4 separate regions of the Homo sapiens genome follow, and all the other regions are linked to region 1. Evidence: fine-mapped expression QTL. A gene starts in region 1. Each other region holds a variant in brackets. All regions are shown on one strand. Distances are from middle to middle. Region 1 holds the start of PAQR8 (progestin and adipoQ receptor family member 8). Region 2 has its middle 27 kb from the start of PAQR8. Region 3 overlaps PAQR8 (progestin and adipoQ receptor family member 8). Region 4 overlaps PAQR8 (progestin and adipoQ receptor family member 8).

What was found.
Region 2: its variant is fine-mapped to the expression of PAQR8 in unexposed skin (GTEx, PIP above 0.99).
Region 3: its variant is fine-mapped to the expression of PAQR8 in whole blood (TOPMed, PIP above 0.99).
Region 4: its variant is fine-mapped to the expression of PAQR8 in whole blood (INTERVAL, PIP above 0.99).

The regions. Positions count from the first base shown.
Region 1 is chr6:52,359,827-52,364,977 of GRCh38, reverse strand. PAQR8 (progestin and adipoQ receptor family member 8) reads right to left here and starts at 2,827. Exons shown (of 2, transcript NM_133367.5): 1 at 2,729-2,827. RefSeq lists silencers at 2,575-3,064, 3,238-3,423.
Region 2 is chr6:52,332,565-52,337,715 of GRCh38, reverse strand. No RefSeq gene overlaps it. Among named protein-coding and RNA genes, the nearest start is that of PAQR8, 27 kb to the left of the region's middle. RefSeq lists a cis regulatory region at 514 and an enhancer at 430-599. The variant T/G (reference allele first, on the strand shown) is at 2,055.
Region 3 is chr6:52,391,105-52,396,255 of GRCh38, reverse strand. The region is part of intron 1 of PAQR8 (progestin and adipoQ receptor family member 8); the gene reads right to left. Among named protein-coding and RNA genes, the nearest start is that of EFHC1, 27 kb to the left of the region's middle. RefSeq lists an enhancer at 4,842-5,151. The variant T/C (reference allele first, on the strand shown) is at 3,219.
Region 4 is chr6:52,399,241-52,404,391 of GRCh38, reverse strand. It overlaps PAQR8 (progestin and adipoQ receptor family member 8), which reads right to left. Exons shown (of 2, transcript NM_133367.5): 2 at 1-1,230. The coding sequence starts at 1,178. The coding sequence ends at 114. Among named protein-coding and RNA genes, the nearest start is that of EFHC1, 19 kb to the left of the region's middle. The variant A/G (reference allele first, on the strand shown) is at 2,009.

The DNA of each region.
Region 1 (5,151 bases):
TACTTTACATACATACCAGAGCATAAACACCAAAATGAAGGTTGTGCTTCAAAGTAGTTAAGTTTTTGAGGAGTTAAATGTTGTACTCAAAATTTCCACTGTGGAGATGATGGGAGCCCCTAACCCCGGTGTTATTCAGGGACCAACTGTAATTCCTTCCAATCCTAAATACATACTCCATGCCATTACTAAATGCCCCTTTTAGAACTGCCAGTCTTTCAAGAGAATTTTCATTACTTTAATGAGCATACTTATTGACAACCTCGATTCCCCACCTCGGAAGCCCAAGTTGGCCCCGCACAGTGCCTGGCTGTTTCCCAGCTGAGGAAGGTTTGCCACCACTGAGGCAATCAGGAAATGTGTTGCAAACTCGGAAGGCAACTCCAAAGCAGGAGCTCCAAAATTATTCTCAGTAGTGACAGCATCACTAGAATTAGTACACAGCTTGCCAAGAGCAGGCTTTTGAAGGGGAGAAATACTGATTTGAATGTATAAATACTGGCATATTTATTTTAACATTTGGATAAAGAATTGGAAGCATCAGCAAGTGTTACGTCCAAGTGAATAAGTACACTGCTGCAGGAATGATAGTGCAGATTTTGATGCAAGGTCCTGACCACTCAATAAGGTATACACACACCCTTAATGGAAATATGCTTATCCTGAAATGATTCTTGTAAAATGAATAAATCGCTTTCTATCCTGTTAACTTGCATAATTATTAAAGATTTCCTTTTCATGAATTAAAAACAGACCCAACAAATGCTAGTTGCCAAAATAATCCTTGTTTATCCAATGAAGCTCAAATCTCAGTGTGTGTCAGAAGATGGACCTATATGCACCAGAAGGAAATCTGGTGCATACACACACCCGCAAAAAAAAAAAAAAAAAAAACATATCTTTCAATGGATATATCCACTTAATAAGATTCCTCTACTCTGGGTCTTCCAGAATTGGTTGTTACGCCAAATAACTGAAATAATTACCATACATAATTAACAATACAAGATGGGTTAATGTAAGATAGTCAACATTTAACTAATAATTGAAGGACACGCACCCAAGGACAAACAGCAGAAATAAAAAACAAAAACAAAAACAAAGCCATGCCTTGGTCCTTTGTTTTTAGATACACACTTGGATACTCATCCACTGAGGTCCTAAGCAGTCTGGCTCCCTTCCAGTTGACCTGGTCAAGGGTGCAGCAGCTCAGGGCTGGGTACACGTTGTGGATAACCTTAACAGGGCAGTCAAGGGCAGTCTACCTTCCATGCAGGCAACTCCTATTAACTTCAGTAACAGGAGTCTTCACTGACAAGCAAATACTCCCAAACTGTACAATACTCTCATGTTTAACTCGACTGGAATGCAGTGCGTTTGTGGACATTGTTTGGTGTGTGTATTTGTTGTGGATTTTCCTCGTTTTTACCCAGAAACAGCTTCTCAGAGTACTGGAACAAGTAGTACACACGTGGGTCTAAAAATCACACATACAGTGTATTGTATGAGTTATCCCTAAGGCGCGCACACACACGGGTAGGTATTACCTGTACATTTGAAATCTCACTCCATAACTAATTTTTTTAGCCCAGGCTCTTCTCATTGGGTTCCTGGACAAAATCATTTCTAACCCAGCTAAGAAATATGGAATGCAACTTAGGTCAAGACAATGAGCCTGCCAAGGCTCCTGGACTTCCCACTAGTCTGCCAGTGCCTGGAGCACCCACAGCTGCACAGGAAGCTGCTGTGCCCGGCTACCTCCAGGTCCCCGCACCGGGTCGGCAAGGTGCAGCAGCCCCCAAACCCAGGCTCCGAATATTCCCCAAGCGCGCTGAGTGCGAGGTCCCCACCCGCCTCCGTCTGGGGATGCCCGGTCTTGCTCCCTAGACTAGATTCCCTCTCGAGTTATCTACGACCCTGTTCCACCGAGGGCGCTGCGTTCTCATAGCCTAGACAGACGTTCCCAGCGTTCCAGCCCCACCAGCCACCTCCGACACCCCACCGCGGCGTTCCCATCCAGCCAAGCCCCAGCATCCGCCCATTAGCCAGCTGCCGGCGGTTCCCATCACAACTCCGCTCCTCGCGCCCACCCTCTCAGAGAAGCCCCCTCCATCTTTCCCCGGCGAAAGCACATGCCTAGACCCACCCTACTCTTTCCGGGGTTCCCCTACCTCGGGCTGCCCTTCCTCGGGCTCTCCCTACCGCCCCGGGCTTCCTCTCCTCCGCACTCCCCTCCCAGGTTCCGTTCCCCTCCGCCCTGCGGAGGGCGCCCCACAAATGCGGACAGGACGCCCCTCGTTCTGCCCTGTCGGACTCCCCCACGTCTTGGTCCTGAATCTCCCGCCCTCCGGGCTCAGCCTTCCCAACATCGCGGTCCCCACACCCCCGCCAGCTCTCCAGGCTCAGGCTCCATGACTCCCCAGCATCGCAGTCCTGGCCACCCCACTACAGCCGTTCAGAGCTCCAGGGCTCCCCAGCATCCTAACCCGTCGTCCCCCCTTCCGGGCTTGGATTCGGAGACTCAACATCGGGGCCCTAAACTCCGGCCCCTGGCCTCAGGTTCCCAACGCTGCGACTCTGGACCTCCCCTCTGAGCTCGGGGTGCGAGGACTCCCCAACGCCGCGATCCTGACGTCCCCGCCTCCCGAGCTCGGGCCCCGGGGCTCCCCGACCTCGCGGTCCCAATACCCAACTCGACCCGTTCCGCGCCTCCCGCGGCGGGACTCACCGGCAGGGGCGGCGGCCGAGCCCGTGCGCGTAGCCCAGCCCGGCCCAGCCCGCGCTCCCGCCTCGGGGTCCCGGCCACGAGCTTCCCGCGGGTGGCTGTGACCGCGGCGGGCTCGGCTCGGGGGAGCGGCCGGGAGGAGGAGACCGCCGGGGGCGGGTGACGCCCAGCTCCGCCCCTTCCCGACCCGGGGGCGGGATGCGCAGACCCGCGCGCTCCGCTGCAGCCCGCGCCGCTGCCGCCGCTGCGAGGAAGTTGACTGACGCCGCTTCCTTCCACCCAGGACGCAGACCCTCGCAGTCCCTGGTAGCTGCAAAAAATCCGGAGAGTTTGAGACAGAGACGCCTTAACCGCCCTCATATTCTTTCCAAGAATTCACCTCTCAGGGGGCCATTTCCGAAGTCCCTCGGGAAGGGCGGAAAACAATAACAAACTTCATCTGCGCTGTCAAGACTGATTTAAATCCTGGCCTTTCTCTCACCACTCTCGGGTGAACGTTCAGGGTCATGCCCATGATATAAATAATGTGATGACATACCACGGAGGCCCTTGCAGACACTTCCACACCCCTAAGATACACCCGCCCAAGACTCGCGCCTCTCCCATGACTACATCACACAGACACATCTGACACTGACCTGCAGAAGATCCCACTTCTACCCTGTGTCCTCAATCCACAGCCTTCGTGGGTCCCAGCAATAGCGACCCACACATACAATCTATTGGAGGCAGGGTGCGGGGGTGGGTTCCACCTCCCGACTTGCTCCTCACCCACAATGTTCTCGGTATTTTACCATGAGAAAAAGACAGTTAAGAAGTTGGATGATCAATTAACAAATCAAGTTGGCTTTGCTTTTAAAAAGCCTTCTTCATTATCTGGAGAAAAGAGAAGGCCTGGGAAGATGGCCTGCTTACTGTAAGATTTTGTCAGACAGGCCTAATTCTGGTCTGCTTACTGTAAGATTTTCTCAGACGGCCTAATTCTGGTCTGCTTACTGTAAGATTTTCTCAGGCCTAATTCTGGTCTGCTGGTTCCCAAAACTTCTCTTATACCACCGTGTTTCAGTGACATGTTGCACAACATCTCACATTTGTACAATGTTTCCATTTTTCAAAACATTTTAGCCGAGTGTGATGGTTCACACCTGTAATCCCAGAACTTTGGGAAGCCAAAGTGGGCAGATTGCTTAAGCCCAGGAGTTCGAGACCAGCCTGGGTAACAAGGTGAGACCCTGTCTCTGCAAAAAATACAAAAATTAGATGGGCGTGGTGGCACACGCCTGTAGTCCCAGCTACTTATTCTCAGGCAAACATCACGAAGCAAAGAAAGTAATCTTAGCAGGATTATTTCAGTTCCATAAATGAAGACATTTAGACTCTGAGCAGTTGCACGGCAGGTTTGAAGCTGAGTCAGAGCCAGGAAAGAGCCCAGGGGCCTGTCTTTAGAGCCACTGATCTCCCCAGGGAATCATAGTCCAGCACTTACTTATAGGTGGATACTAGTGGAAATGTCACAGGAGGTCTTTGGCAGCTTTGCTCCCTCCATCTCTTCTTCACCCCAAAGATGTCAGGGAACTCTCCCTTAACCTCAAAAACCCGGGCTCTCCTTTATCGTCAAAAACCTATGATAGGCCAGAGGTCACAACCGTACAAGAGGGCTTATTGAGAGGGAGTGAAAACTCCTTCCACTTTGGGCCACTCTAGAAACAAAATTACAGGTTAGCACATCTAAAAGCCTATCCACAGCCTTCATCCAACTAACGTGAGCTGTCAGCCGGGAGCTGATGAGCCTCCGAAATGCATTGCTGATTATTTTTGCAGTGTTTTTCTCCCTAACAGTTAATCCATGTGGAATGTGAAGAAGTCTTAAAAGGAGACTAACAAGGCTTCTAATTCTTTCTCAATGGTAAATGTTCCTTTCTTCTTGCCCTTTATCCAAAAGGCAGATGTGAACGTGCATGTAAAGTGTAATGGGTGTCAGGCATTGTTATCTGTGCATGAGGCAGTTCTGTTTCCAAGTGACGCTGTCCAGAGCCACTAAATAAGAATGGTGGTTCTCATCCTTCATGCCTTTTAAAACTACCTTGGTCTCAAGCTAGCTTCTTTTATTTTCTACTGTGAGGTAATGGCCTACTTCCGTTTGGGCAGTAAAAGTGATGTTTTGGTAACACTGGAAAAAGTCCTAGGGTGACCTGGCTATTTTTGAATTATAATAAAAGCCTGTTGGGTCCTTCATAAAAGACAGTTAGGATGGCCTTTGGTATATGGAAATTCACAGCCAACTTTCCTCTATGTAATAATCCCATCTGGCAACACAATTTTGACCTGAGATTTTTCCAAAACCTGGAAACAGCCAAGATCTTGGGTACTGCAGTATTTCCTCAATAAGGAGAATGCTAAACTGCGAATCCAATCAACACGTATCA
Region 2 (5,151 bases), 27 kb after region 1:
GAACACTATTACACTTCTTACAGGTCTCCAAAAATGCCATGTGCTATTTTCTCTAAGCCTTTGCTTACCATTTCTCACTGCATGAAACATTCTTCACCCCTCCCCTTATCATTGCCTGGCCTTGTATCTTTTGGGTCTCCATGTAGATTATACACTCTGGAAAGCCTTCCATGACACCAACTTAGATTGTCCCCTCTATGGGCTTTAAGAGCGTGTGGTACAGCCCCTTTCTGTAGTTCCAATAGCACTGTATTGTCATTACCTACTTACTTTTCTCTTATGAAACTATAAGCTTCTTGAAGATAGGGATGGTGTCTAGCCACTTTCTTAGCACAGTGTTTAGTAAATGGAAGATGCTTAGTAAGCATTTGTTAAATGAATGAGGAGTGAGTGTTAACTTATTTCTCTCTCAGTTCAAACTCCTTTGCTTCTAAGTGTCAGAAAGCCCAATCCAAAGAGCTTAAGCAAAAAGAGGAATTCGCGGCTCATATAAGCAAAGAAGTCTAGAGGAGTGTCGTGCCCATCATTGAACCAATCGTTGTTCTTTCAGGAGAATGCAAGGCTCTGATTGGCCAAACCTGGGTCACATGTCACCCCCATTTCTGCTGTCCCAAGACCACTCAGGCTGGGGATGAGGGATGGTGCTGGAAGTGGGAAGGGGCGGGGTCTCCAAACTACAGTCCTGAACTTTCCCTGGAATTTTGGTGAGGGGATCCTGGGTAACCCTCAAAAACAAATTTCTATTAAGTAATGCCTACAATTCAGGGGGATAGGGATAACACAGATCCAGCAAAGAAATTCTAGGTTAAGCAGTCTGAGAAATGGGCAAAGAGCTAAGAATGTATAGTGTCATGCAAGGAAAGGTGACTAATATTTGTTTAGCACTGACCATGTGACAGGAGCTTTTCACACGATATATCATTTAACCCTCACAATAACTCTCAAATACATAGTTATTCCCAGTTAACAGAATCTTAGGGTAAACTGAGTCTCAGAGGGAATATGTAACTCACTTAGGCCACACAGTTCCTGGTGTCAAAAAAGGTTAGGGACTGCTTCATTAAAGGAACAAGGCTTTATTCATTTTTGTCTCCAGCGTAGGAAAGGGCCTTACTCATACTGTTCATCACTAAATATTTGTTAAATTAATGAATGAATAATTAATTGCATGAGCAAAAGATGAAAAACTGTATCCCAGGAAGAAATGAAGGTAGAGAAAGAACAGTAGGGGTGGGTTAGATTCAAACATGTTTTTAGGGCAGGTGGAAAGAGGTTGAAAATGAAAGAAAATGTTGATGATGAAGCAATGTTCCCTATGCAGTTCAAATTCTAGGAAAAAGCCTTAGATAAAAAATTTCAATATTTCTTCCCCCAGAGTGAGAGAGAGAGAGAAAAGTATGGCCTTGGGAGAGTCTGGGGTAGAGGGAAGAAAACCAAAAGCATTCTTTTCAGCTTCCTCGGTCTTCACTGTGAAAAAGTAAAGGTTCTCATTTCTACAACTGTGTCGAGTATACGCTGACCTGATGTTTTAATTCATGGCTCATCCTCACAGTACCAAGCATAGAATAGATGCTAAAATAAATGTATAAACTCACTGGGTTGAACTGAATGAAATCAAATTATCTTTTAGAAAAATTTGAATGTAGCCTTCAGAAAGGGCAGCTACCTATAAGCCTAATTTGATGGCTTGCCAGGACTTTGGTAGGTGCTGTGGGAAGATGGAGGAAGGCAGTACAATGTGCCCATGTTATCTGTTCTACAGAATATCTTTGCTGGGCAAATATCTCCTTATCATTTTCCTTTTTCAATGCAAGCTTCCACCCTACTTCTTCAGGACACCTGGGCTTGGGCAGTGATTACTAGGTTGACTGTTTGTAATAACAGGTCTGTCTTGGGAAATTATAGGCTGTGAGGTCTCAGAGGTTAGCAATCAGAAGAGATTTACTAAGCCTTCTCTGACCAGTTCCAGGGCTGTCCTCCTTAGCAGACTGACTCAGCCAGCAGTGCCACCTGTGAAACAGGTGGCAAGGCTGGTCACACTGCCTCTTTCCACA[T/G]GCTATTCTGTCCACTCCCTAAGGGTCCCTGACACCAGCTGAGAGAGTGAAGCCTTGGCCTGCTGGGGATGCCTCCAGCTGCAGAAGGCAGCCTGACCTTGAATTCAAGCAGGCTTTAAATTCTTCGCCTCACAGAATGAGGTAACAGAAAGATGGATGATTACTGATTAGAACACTGTGACCTAAAAAAATTAAGTAATCCACAGTGAAAACTCATTCCCCTGTCTCTGTTTAGTCTCTGACAGGAATAAAGGATGGGATAAAGGGTAGGATAGGGAATGGGGTGGTGGCATCAGAGAGCCCCCTTTGGCCACCAGTAGGTGCCTTTATTGATGTGTTCCCATGAGAAGGAACAAAGAAAAGGGGTTGGAATAAAAAAGAAGAAAATCCTGTCATTCATGGCATAGATGAGCCTGGAGGACTTTATGTTAAGTGAAATACACCAAGCACTGAAAGACAAATACCGCATGATCTCACTCATGTGGGAGATAAAATAAATTTTTTGAGCCCATGGAAGTAGAGAGTAGAATTGTGAGTATTAGAGGCTGGGAAGGGTGGGTGAGGGAGGGGAGGAGGGTGAGAGTTCTGGTGCTTTGCGAATGTGGTTAATTATAATTTATTGTATATTCTCAAAAAGCTACAAGATGATTTTGAATGTTCACAACACAAAGAAATGGTAAGTGTTTGAAGTGATGATATGCTAATTACCCTGATTTGATCATTACTCATTGTATGCATGTATTAAAATAGCACTCCAGCTGGGTGCGGTGGCTCACGCCTGTAATCCCAGCACTTTGGGAGGCTGAGGCAGGCTGATCACAAGGTCAGGAGATTGAGACCAACCTGGCTAACATTGTGAAACCCCGTCTCTACTAAAAATACAAAAAATTAGCTGGGCATGGTGATGCGTGCCTGTAGTCACAGCTACTCAGGAGGCTGAGGCAGGAGAATCGCTTGAACCCGGGAGGCGGAGGTTGCAGTGAGCTGAGATTGCACCACTGCACTCCAGCCTGGGTGAAAGAGCGAGACTCCATCTCAAAAAAAAAAAGAAAAAGAAATAGCACTCCATATCCCATCAATTTGTACAATTATTACATGACAACTAAAAATAAAAGGAAAAAGCAAAGCAAAGAGGCTGGAGAGAAAGGAGTGTAATTCCATCCCTTTGTGGTAGTGGGGGTCCAGTAGGAGGCTGGGCTAGGCAGGGAAGCAAGGAACTCACTTGCCCAACTCCAGGGATTTCAGATCTTCCTGTTTGTACAAGCAGGTGGTTTATTTCTAAATAAGCTATTTTGGATTCTTACTTTGCATAGAGTTTGTACATGTTTTCTGCAAAAGCCCAGGCAGAGGCCTCTGGGAGGGGAGTTTGGTGATGAAGTCAGCCAGAATGAGGCTTTTGATATATGGAACTTTTGCCTGATTTCAAGCAATATATCTTCTGCTCCCTTTATTCTTTCCACTTTCTCAGCTCCACCAGCCACATGGTTTTCTTTTTTATCCAACAGGTATAGGTGAATCAACTGCCTCTCTATGGTAGAGTGTCTATTATTCTAACAAGGGCCAGCCCCAGGAAAAACTGCAGCAGTTGAAGTTCAGCTTCTCCTCTTCCTCCCTACCCTACCAACTCTGTAGCACAATCTAGTTGTCAAGGAACCCAAAACATTTGTGGTTTAATGTGTGACCTTTCTCACAGTGTTTTCATCCTGATAGGCCTGTTACATTTTGCTTTCCTGTGCATTTTCTCATTTGGCCAGCAACCCTGTGAATAAAACACTCGTGAGCATTATCTCCCAAAAGGTATTTTGGACCACTTATGAAATTAACTGTCATCTTCTGAGAGCTTGCTACCTGCCAGTCACTGTGCTGAATGCCTTACATACCTCAACTAATCGTCATAATCACTGTGAAGCTGATACTCTTATCCCTAATTTCCAGAGGAGAAAGCTAGGTATACATAACTTGCCCAAGGTCACACAGCTAACTAGCGGCAAAATCAGGATTAAAGCCTGGGTCTGACCAAGTCCAAATCCTGTGCTCTTATCTCTTTCACCATTCTGCCTGTGCAGAAGGCAGGACAGGTATTAGTATGCCTGTTTTCTTTGTCTTTTCTTTCTTTCTTTCTTTCTTTCTTTCTTTCTTTCTTTCTTTCTTTCTTTCTTTCTTTTTCTTTCTTTCTTTCTCCTTCCTTCCTTCCTTCCTTCCTTCCTTCTTTCTCTCTCTCTCTCTCTCTCCTTCCTTCCTTCCTTCCTTCCTTCCTTCCTTCCTTCCTTCCTTCCTTCTCTCTCTCTCTCTCTCTCTCTCTCTCTCTTTCTCTCTTTCTCTCTTTCTCTCTTTCTCTCTTTCTCTCTTTCTCTCTTTCTTTCTTTCTTTCTTGAGACGGGGTGTCACTCCATTGCCCAGGCTGGAGTGCAGTGGCTCAATCCTAGCTCACTGCAGCCTCGACCTCTTTAGCTCAAGCAATCCTCCCACCTCAGCCTTCTGAGTAGTGGGGACTACAGGTATACATCACCATACCCGGCTAATTTTTGTATTTTTTTTTAGAGATAGCGTCTTGCTATGTTGCCCAGGCTGGTCTTAAACTCCTGGGCTCAAGCAATTCTCCCACCTTGGCCTCCCAACGTGCCGGAATTGCAGGTGTGAGCAGCTGCACCTAGCCATATGCCCATTTTCTAAAGAACTTTTTCTCTTTTAAAATGGAATTTCAGAGAACTATTTCACAGAACTCCCAGTGGCAGAGTTGGGGCTAGAGCCCCTTTAATAGATGACGACAGAAGAAAAATTCCTACCTCCTGATTGGGCCACCATGTAGGCTTCTAGGCACAGTAATAGGAAATGTAAAAACCTTCCTGTACCTCTCACATCATGTAGTCAGCACCTGACTCTTACTTCATAAATTGAGTCCACGTGGGGCGTGGTGGCTCACTCCTGTAATCCCAGCACTTTGGGAGGCTAAGGCGGATCGATCACAAGGTCAGGAGATCAAGACCAGCCTGGCCAACATGGTGAAACACCATCTCTACTAAACATACAAAAATTAGCCGGGCGTGGTGGTGTGTGCCTGTAATCCCAACTACTCAGGAGGCTGAGGCAGAGAATT
Region 3 (5,151 bases), 31 kb before region 1:
CTTTTCTTAACTCCCAGACTGGCTTAGGGCTCTCTCCAGCCTTCATTAGACTCTGGCCTTGCCTCTCCCAGTTTTCTTCATTCATGGAGCTGGGTTCGTTTGTTTACTCCACTTACTTTCCCATTAGCCACCAGCTCCTTTAAAGGCAGGGACTGTTAGGTGCAGAAGTCCCCATGTTGAAAATAATATCTGGCATATAGAAGACACCTTATAATTATTTACTGAATGAACAGTTCTTTAGGCCCAGGCTCATGGCACCAATTTCTTTCTCTTCTGCAAAGGTGAAGGAAAAAAGAAGTAATGGTTTGGGAGTCAGGAAGTCTGGCTATTAGTATTTGCTCTACTCAGGTGTGTGGCTATGCCTAAGACAATCAATTACTCAGTGTCATTGTCCTCATAAAAAAGGGTGGGTGGGTGAGAGGAGGTGATTTCCTGTCTATCCACTTTTTAGGAAGAAAACAGAATGAATAATAACAAAATGGTCAGTAATGGAATAGTACTTTCAAGAGGCAAAACATGTACATAAAGTCCTAGTAATATTTCAAATAAAGAGCCCACTGAAGGATATAACTTAGTAAAAATAAATCTATCCACACGTATTTTCTACCTTATAATTGATTTTAATGCAATTTTTTAAAATCAAAAAGGAATATTATTTGTTTTGTAACACTCCTGGGAATCATCATAATACTGCCTCCCTGGGTCAGGTCTGGGCTGAAAGACATGTTTGAAAATGTTGAGTTTGAAGTGCCCATGGAGGACATTCATTTGGACACATCTAGAGCAGTGGGATATTTGAACTCCCCTATCTCCTTTAAGGATTTTTAATTAGAGTCAGATTATAATGGAATTGGAATTAAAAGTTCTATTTACTGAGTATATGTACCATGAATTCACTTAATGTTTATAAGAAAGTGTTAAAAAATGTTGAATAATGCCTTGCATTATGTAGGGATCTAATCTTTTTTTTTTTTTTTTTTTTTGAGACGAAGTCTCGCTGTGTCGCCCAGGCTGGAGTGCAATGGCGCAATCTTGGCTCACTGCAACCTCCGCCTCCCGGGTTCAAGCAATTCTCCTGTCTCAGCCTCCCAAGTAGCTGGGACTAAACTGCAGGTGCATGCCACTATGCCCAGCTAATTTTTTGAATTTTTAGTAGAGACAGAGTTTTACCATATTAGTCAGGCTGGTCTCAAACTCCTGACCTCAGGTGATCTACCCACCTCAGCCTCCCAAAGTGTTGGGATTACAGGCGTCAGTCACTGTGCCCGGCCGGGATCTAATCTTAAAAATTTATCTTAGAAGCGCCTTTCAAATTTTTTTTTTAATGGAAAGAGAAAAATGGGGTAAAAATCCCAAGTTCATGGTTAAAAATCTGACATTTTAGCCAAAAATTGTGCATTTAGGTGTTCTTTTTAAAAGTAAATCACAGAACTAAGCTAAATACAGATGTTCCTTGACATATGATGGGTTATAGCCCAGTAAACCCATTGTTAAGTTGAAAACGTCTTAAGTTGAAAATGCATTTAATGCACCTAATCTACTGAACGTAACCACTCTTAGCCTACACTACCTTAAATGTGCTCAGAACACACACTTAGCCTACAGGTGGGGAAAGTCATCTGGCAACAGAGGACACCGTAGGGTACTGGTTGTTTTGAGATCACATGGCTGACTGGGAGCTGCAGGTTACTGCTGCTGCCCAGAATTGCTAGAGTATTTCACCACCTATCACTAGCCTTGGAAAAAATCAAAACCCCAAATGCAAAGTATGGTTTCTATTGAATGTGTATCACTTTCACACCATCCTAAGTTGGGGATCATCTGTATTCTTAAGGTTTGGTTTTGTTTTCGTAGTTCTGACTGATGGAAACTACCTAAAATGCATTTCCTTTTCAGTAACTTTCAATAAAACAATGAAATGACACGTTTTTGGTGATAGTTGTTATCCCCTGAAAACACAGTAAAAATACGTGAAGTACCCATAAAAGACCATTTAACTTTCAGAGAGGAACTATATCGATAAGCAGAGCAGCACCTGGGCACGTCTCCTATCACCTGAGAAACAGGTGTAACCGTGTCACTGCACTCACTGCTCCTGGCCAACTCCTCCATCTGCTGGGTTCCCTCTCATTGGCCCCTGTCTGAATTTGAGTCCTTATTATCTCTCACAGGAACCTCTGTAGGATACAGGAGGCCTTCCTGGTCCCCTACCTGTGCGTCTCTTTAACTGTCCCCAAAGCATCTCCCACTCTGACACTTTGTGTTCCAGTTATTCTGCCATCCTCTCAGGACTTTGTGCTTCTATGCATGCCTGGAATGCCCACACCACTGATGTCCACTGGCCAACTCCTACTCATGCTTCATGTCCCATCTCAAATGGTCCCTGTGAAGGCTTCCCCTCAGGTGCTCCTTCACCTAACTGCCACTGCACTTAAAGTCCTTCATTATAGGACTTTCCTTACTGTATGCCTACATGGTTTGCATTATATGTCTCTCTGACCACTAAACTGCAAGATCCTTTGAGGGCTGAGAATATTTTTATCATTAGCATTGTGCCTATCACATTGATATTCCAAGAAATCACTGAATGAACGAATGAATGAATGAATGGAAAGTGTCCAAATCGACCAGGTACAGTGGCTCACACCTGTAATCCCAGCACTTTGGGAAGCCGAACGGGGAGGATAGCTTGAGCCCAGGAGTTCAAGACCAGCCTTGGCAACACAGCAAGACTCTATCTCTAAATTTAAAAATTAGCCAGGCATGGTGGCGCACACCTGTAGTCCCAATTACTCAGGATGCTGAGGTGGGAGGATCACTTGAGCCCAGGAGATTGAGGCTACAGTGAGCCATGGTTATGCCACTGCACTCCAGCCTGGACAACAGAGCAAGACGCCGTCTCAAAAAAAAAAAAAAAAAAAAGAGAGAGAAAGTGTCAGAATAATAGTATCAAACACTTATATGATGTTTAGCACATACCAGACAGTGTTTTGGGTGCTTTGAAAATATTAACTTATTTAAACTTCCCAACAATACCTGACACCAGTACTATTATCATTCCCATTTCACAGATAAGGAAACAGTTACAGAGAGATTACATAACTTGTCCAAGGCTGCACAGTATGTGATAGATCCAGGAGGTGACTAAGCAGTTGACTCTAAAGTCTGCGTTCTTAACCACTATGCCTCAAAAAATGCCCTCTATGACTAAACCCCAA[T/C]ATTTTTTGATATACAACTTCAAATATGCTGCTGCAATACTGCTTTGCTTCATTAACAAAAATAACTTGCAGTTGGCCTTACAAAAACAATCAGTACTGCAAAGTTTCTCAGATCTTTGACACTGAGTTTACTTGTAAATCAGATTCCAATACTCCCTAAGAGAATAAAATGTGACTTCCACAAAATCTGAGTGGAATCTATCAAATAATCCAAATAGGTCTATTAGCCCAGATAAATATGATCATAAATCTGATGGGCTTCTTTCATATTAAAGAGACACATGGTTTGTTGTGGCTAGCTTTACAGAACTGGTGTAGTGAGACATTCCAATCATAAACCTGAGGTCATTTATCAGCCTACTAATGGAAAGCACAATGACAATGAGATCACTAAATCTGCTATGCATATAGCAAGCTACCTAAAAAGCCTTTCCCAAATTAACAAAGTGGGGAATTAAAGAAAAGCTCCATATTTGGGAAACTGGCATTGTTTGGTACTGAAGACATTTTATCTGGATGACAAATAGAAGCACTCCAAAGCAATAGTGTTTCCTGACCTATTACAAGGATGCTATGTGAATCTACCACAAACTTGGAATAGCTGATTCCCTGGAAAGAACACTGGGCAAGAAATTAGAAGTCCCAATGTTTAGTTCTAGCTCTATCACTATGTGACACTTTTTTTTTTTTTTTTGAGATGGAGTCTCGCTCTGTCACCCAGGCTGGAATGCAGTGGCGCGATCTTGCCTCATTGTAACCTCCGCCTCCTGGGTTCAAGCAATTCTCCCGCCTCAGCCTCCCGAGTAGTTGGGACTAAGGGCGCACACTGCCACACCCAGCTAGTTTTTTTTGCATTTTAGTAGAGACGGGGTTTCACCGTGTTGCCCAGGCTGGTCTCGAACTCCTGAGCTCAGGCAATCTGCCCGCCTAGGCCTCCCAAAGTGCTCTAAGTGATTTTTAAGCAAATTATTCAACCTCTCTATGCCTTGGTGCCCTTGTCCTTAAGATGGGGGTGTAATCTATATAAGCTCTAATACTGTAAAATTCTGTAATTCATCTGGGCTATGTTTTGCTTTGTACTGAACATCAAGCAGCATGCTGGAATCACCAACAAACAGATCCTGTGACATCACTTCATGTCACTGTGTGTGGGACTCACACAGATGGTAGGAAAGTGACCTGCTGGTTGTTGGATAGAGGACAAATGAGCAGCAATTCCTATCAAAGGCAAAAGAAATGCTTCCAGAATTCACAGAAGCCCAGCTTCACACATCACTGCATAATTATAAATGGCTGCAAAGGAATAGCAGCCAAAATGACAACTTGGTGTCCATTTATAAGGACTGGAACTGTGCTTTAAGCAGCCTTTGAGCCAGAGGTGGAGTTGGAAACAGTCTCACATGCCTCAGGATCTCCATAGTCGTTAAGTGAGAGAACTCTGGGCTCATACTGATCTTTATAGCTACATCTTCCAAGGAGCATATCACTATTTGTAAAGTCATATTTGAAAGAATGGCACTACCAGTGCAATCCTGTTATTAGCAGAGATCATTTGAACATCGATTCAGATTCACCAATGGTCAGTGCATATTTCCTCCCTATATTTAACAAAACCTAACAAACAGAATTTCGACATCCAAAAATGGAGTATTTGATTGTGTAAATTAAGATAAATCTATAAAATAGAATACTATGCACTTATTAAAATAACTAGCATATTTACATTTATTGTTATACAAAGATACACATGATATGTGAGCTCCATTGGTTTTTCACTGTAGTCTCCACTGCACTTAGAAAAGTGATGGACTAGCACATTGTACATTCTCAAAAAAGATTTCTTGAATGAATAAATGAGTCAAAGACATGTAAAGGAAAAAACAAATTTAAAGTATGTGTTCCGCCCAGCCCTATTTTTGTAATCATACAAACA
Region 4 (5,151 bases), 39 kb before region 1:
CTTGGATATATGTATTAATTTAAAAGCCAATGCCTTAAAAGTCAGCTTCTATTGTATCAAGTTTTCTCCAAATTATGAGGGGCTTCCTCCACACGTTGCCCCACTTGCCAGCCTCAGGAATCTTTCTTGGTCAGTCTGGCCTTGACTTTGTGCCTCAGAAGGGCTGCGGTGGCAGCACTGCAGGCAGCCAGGAAGAAGAAGGAGAGGCAGGCCATGTGGACAGATAGGGGTCCATGGCGCTGCAGGAAGATCTCCTGCCGCCCCTGGTAGTCCAGGAGGATGGCCTCCAGCTGGGAGAGCGTACAGATGGACAGAAATGCATGGAAGATCTGATGCCCATGGCCCACGATGTCACAGGAACCCGGGAAGTACTTCTCAGGCACGGGGCAGGAGAAGAAATAAGCGCTAACCAGGAAGAAGAGGATCTGGAGGGTGTGGTACCAGGCTGCTTGCTCCTGGCAGCCAGCCAGGTGACAGAGCGCCACACGGTGTGCCACAGGGCTGATGTCTAGGATAAAAGCCAGACCTGCTGGCACCACTTGACAGATCTTCCTCATGACTGGATAAGGCCTCCGGTAACGATATTTGGCATAGCAACAGCCAGCACAAGATAACCAGCCACAGAAGGCAGCTGCTGGCAAGAAGAAAAGCCAGAACCGGTCATACCAGGCCTGGTCAGAGCTGTAGAAGAAATGAGCCAAAGCACTGCCATATTGGTAAACGCTCACGCCAACATAGTCCACAAAGTAGAAGGTGTAGTGGGAGAGCTCTGACTTGGACTGCAGCAGGTGGGCCAGAAGGCTGCAGGTGAGGTAAGTGATTGACGACAGGATGAAGAGGAGCAGAGGCAGGGAGTGGGTAGACGCCCATGGCAAGGCCTCAGCCTCGGCAAAGGCCCAGAATCGCAAGAGGACGGCCAGGGCTGCCAGTAAATGGGTCCAGACGTTGACCACCTCGTTGTGTTTCTGAAAGAGGCTGAAGAAGTAGTAGCGCCACTCGTGCCCCGTGGGGCGGTAGCCGGTGCGGATGTAAGGCTCCCGGAAGAGCTGGGGCACATCCGTTTCTGGGACAGTGCAAGGCATCTTGGGAAGCCCATCCTCCAGGATCTTGGGCAGGCGGCGCAGCTGCTGCCCGCTGACCGACAGGGTGCTCAGGCGCTCCAAGATGGCGGTCGTCATGGCAGCGGCCCGCATGCACTCCGTGCCGCGCCCTCAGGACAGGGTATGCAACCTGCAGAAAAGAAAGGAAAATTGGCAAAGCCGCAGTGAGACACGAATGCAGCTAAGACGGACAAGGAACTATGGCTATTTTCTTTTCTTTTGAGACGGGGTATCACTCTGTCGCCCAGGCTAGAGTGCAGTGGCACGATCACAGCTCATTGCAACCTCTAATTCCTGGGCTCAGGTGATCCTCCAGAGTAGCTAGGACCATAGATGCACGCCAACACGCCCGGATAATTTTTTGTTGCTGCTGTTGTTGTAGAGACAGGGGTGTCGCTATGTACAGCAGGCTGGGCCCAAACTCCTGGGCTCAAGCACTCCTCCCTCCTCAGCCTCCCCAAGTGTTGAGATTACAGGCGTGAGCCACCAGGCCGGCTAGGATCCGTGGTTATTTTAATGCAACGTGGCTTTCTGGTACAGTAGAGGAAGCAAGGAGCTGCAGACAGCTTCTTTGAGCCTCCTTTAATTCATCTGTAGAATAATGGAGTTGGACCAAGATCCCTTACTGTCCCAATATTCTTTTTTTTCTTTCTTTCTTTTTTTTTTTTTTTTTTGAGACAGAGTTTCACTCTTGTTGCCCAGGCTGGAATGCAATGGTACCATCTCGGCTCACCACAACCTCCGCCTCCCGGGTTCAAGCAATTCTCCTGCCTCAGCCTCCCAAGTAGCTGGGATTACAGGCATGTGCCACCACGCCTGGCTAATTTTGTATTTTCAGTAGAGATGGGGTTTCTCCATGTTGGTCAGGCTGGTCTGGAACGCCCGACCTCAGGTGATCCGCCCACCTC[A/G]GCCTCCCGAAGATTTTTTTTGAAACAGGGTCTTGCTCTGTCGCCCAGCTGGGATGCAGTGGCGCAATCTTGGTTCACTGCAACTTCCGTCTCCCGGGTTCAAGCAATTCTCCTGCCTCAGCCTCCCAAGTAGCTGGTATTACAGGCATGCACCACCACACCCAGCTAATTTTTATATTTTTAGTAGAGATGGGGTTTCACCATGTTGGCCAGGCTGGTCTCGAACTTCTAACCTCAAATGATCTTCCCACCTCATCCTCCAAAAGTGCTGGAATTACAGGCGTTAAGCCACCATGCCTGGCCTGTCCCAATATTCTATGTTTACTACACTCAGTGTGAGGCAAAGTTACATCTTGTAAAATGGAAATGTTAGCTACCCTAACATAATTTAGTGATACCAATGACTTAATGATTATCAAGATTTAATTATAAGTAAGGTAACCTTTAAAGGATATGGGCTTTTCTCGATATTAAAATGTAATAAACAGGCTTTAATAGCATGAAATATCATATTGAAGTATAAGAATTACAAATATTGATATAGCTAATGATAGACTGTATTTCTTTAGCACCTACCTAATCTTAAACTATCCACTAATTTCACTGGTACTTTGAAAATATGAGGTGAGCAACTGACTAAGCCTCATATTTAAGACAGGCAAATTGACTCGTCAGTTAGGTTGGTAAAGAACAATGCACATTCTAGGATATCCTAACAGTTAAAATTAACATGTGACCTAAATTTAACATAAAATCTCATTGCAAAGACTGTTGTTCATTTTTTAAATTATGCTCTGAAAAGCAAGTAGTTTTAGATTTGCTTCTCTTGGGTAATTAAAACTGCACTCGGTGAATTTCAGGCTTCAGAAATGCTTAACTTACACTTGTATTTCTCAGTGACAGACGAATACAGCAATTATTTCATAAAATATTTCATGAAACTGCTGCAAAATTTCATCTGAAGTTGCTAGGTAAAGAAATAGATTTTGATCATTTCTAGTTACCTTATGTAATTATGTTTCCCAAGCTTTTTTCTTCAGAAAAATTTAATATCTGATTTATCTAAATGGAGCACATACAGCAAGCACATACAGCAAGTACTGGAGCACATACAGCAAGTACTGTTCAAGGTGCTTACTAATTTTAGCAAAGAAAATGTAATTCCTACTCATACGTCTCAATCAATATTGGAAGAGAAAAAATACCTAATCAGGTAAAAAAGTGTAGGGCATGAAAATTAATAAAATGTAAAGAAGTTCAGGGAGACCTGGAGTCAAGCTCCAGTTTTGCCACTTACTGGGGTGACCTTGGGCAAGTTATAGAATTCTCTCAGCCTCAGTTTCTTCATAATTCTATATATTATATGGGTTGTGTGATAGTTAAATGAGAGGGTCTAAAAAATGAAGTGCTTAGCACTCTGCCCAGCCCAAGGTAAGTGCGTAGTAAATGTGAAATATTGCTGTCATTTTTATTGCTATGAGCTGGGCTCTGTGCTAGGTACTAGGTACTAGGGATACAAAGACTGGTAAGATACACTTCCTGCCTTCAAAGAGATCAAAGTTTACTGGGGAGACAGACATGTAGGGGAATCAACACAAAAATGTGCAATAAGTGCTCCATTAGAGACAAACACTGGTTCACAGAGGTCTCAGCAAACAACCAAAACAGGGAAAGGATGGGGGTATAGCCCTCTTGAAGTGACCCTGAACTGAATCTTGAAGGAAAAATCAGAATTCCTGAGAAAAGATAAAGGCGGAAGAGACTTCTAGGCAGAGAGCAAGGTCAAAGAACTTCTGCCAAGATATGGGCTTGGAAAGCCTGGAGTATCTGAAGTCATTGTAGTTTGCAGTTATGACATTGGTGCCAGAGAGACCTGAACTCACATCCTGAGCCCCACCATCAACAAGCTGCATGAATCCAGCCTGAGCTTTGTTATCTGTGGAGTAAATGACAGAGAAGCTGCCTTACAGGGCTGAAAAAGAACTATATGACATAATGGCTGTAAAGTGTTTAACAAAGTGCTTGGTTCCAAGTCTGCATAACTACTTGCCATTATTATGACCATCACTGATATGAGATGCAGGAATCATTCATGAGTTCAGGGCCTAATGTCCCCTCCATACCTTGAACCTATTTCTATGGCAGCCCCTGTAACCCTGTATTGAGGCATTCATTTAGCCAGCACCCATCAGACAGTGGTCTTCTACCAGGAATGGGCTATGAACTCAAGCTCAATGTAGGAATTAAAGACACCAAGAGAAGTGTATTAAGGATTACAGTCAGCCAGAAAGAGAAACACAGAAAGAGGGAGTGTGGGAGAGAGAAAGAAAATGCTAATTAGAATACCTGAATTCATTTGAAAACAAAAAGAAAAGAAAAAGCTAAGTGGTGCTTCTGCTATCAGCCAGCAGAGGGATCCGAGTGCCTTAGAGTTCAGTTCTGGATGGAAGTTTCTCCAACTGACCTTGGTGGACGAACTACAGGAATGGGCCTGGGATGTGGGATAACTTCTCAAGTTGCCCTGTTGCTGTTAGCAACATATAATCTGGGGGTGCTGGGCTTGTTGGAGTTCTGGGGAATTAAAGTGCTCTATTCTTTAGATATAGTCTTCTACTACCTCTTGTGAAGTAGAGAGCAAACCAGATGAAATTACCAGTCTGATTTTATGGCTGGGAGAAATCAAGGTGAGTCACTGGGTATAACCCCAGTGACTATAGAAGAAGGAATCCCCAAAGATGCTCCCAGTATCCCTGTCTGCATGCTGTCTAAAATCAAGGCTATTTCTCTCATCTTTGGGAACCCAAACCAATCAGACGATTCCTGCATCCAGAGTTAAATAATATATAACCACACAATTCCTACTAATCTTCATATCCTTAAAATAGCGTATCCATCACATAGCAGGTTCTTATAAACTGACAACTCAACTGAATTTCTAAAGACTAAAACTTTGGGTTTTAGTAGTTTAGCGATTGGAAGAGAGCACAATTCAGACCTGGGAACTAACTGGCATCTGTCTGTTCTGAGGGAGAAAGGACGGAACATGATACTGCCTTATTATTGGTCTGCAGAAGACCATGACTGCAGAGCTCTGACAGTTCCTTCTATTTCTCATATCACCAGCCTCCCTCATGACTTTATGT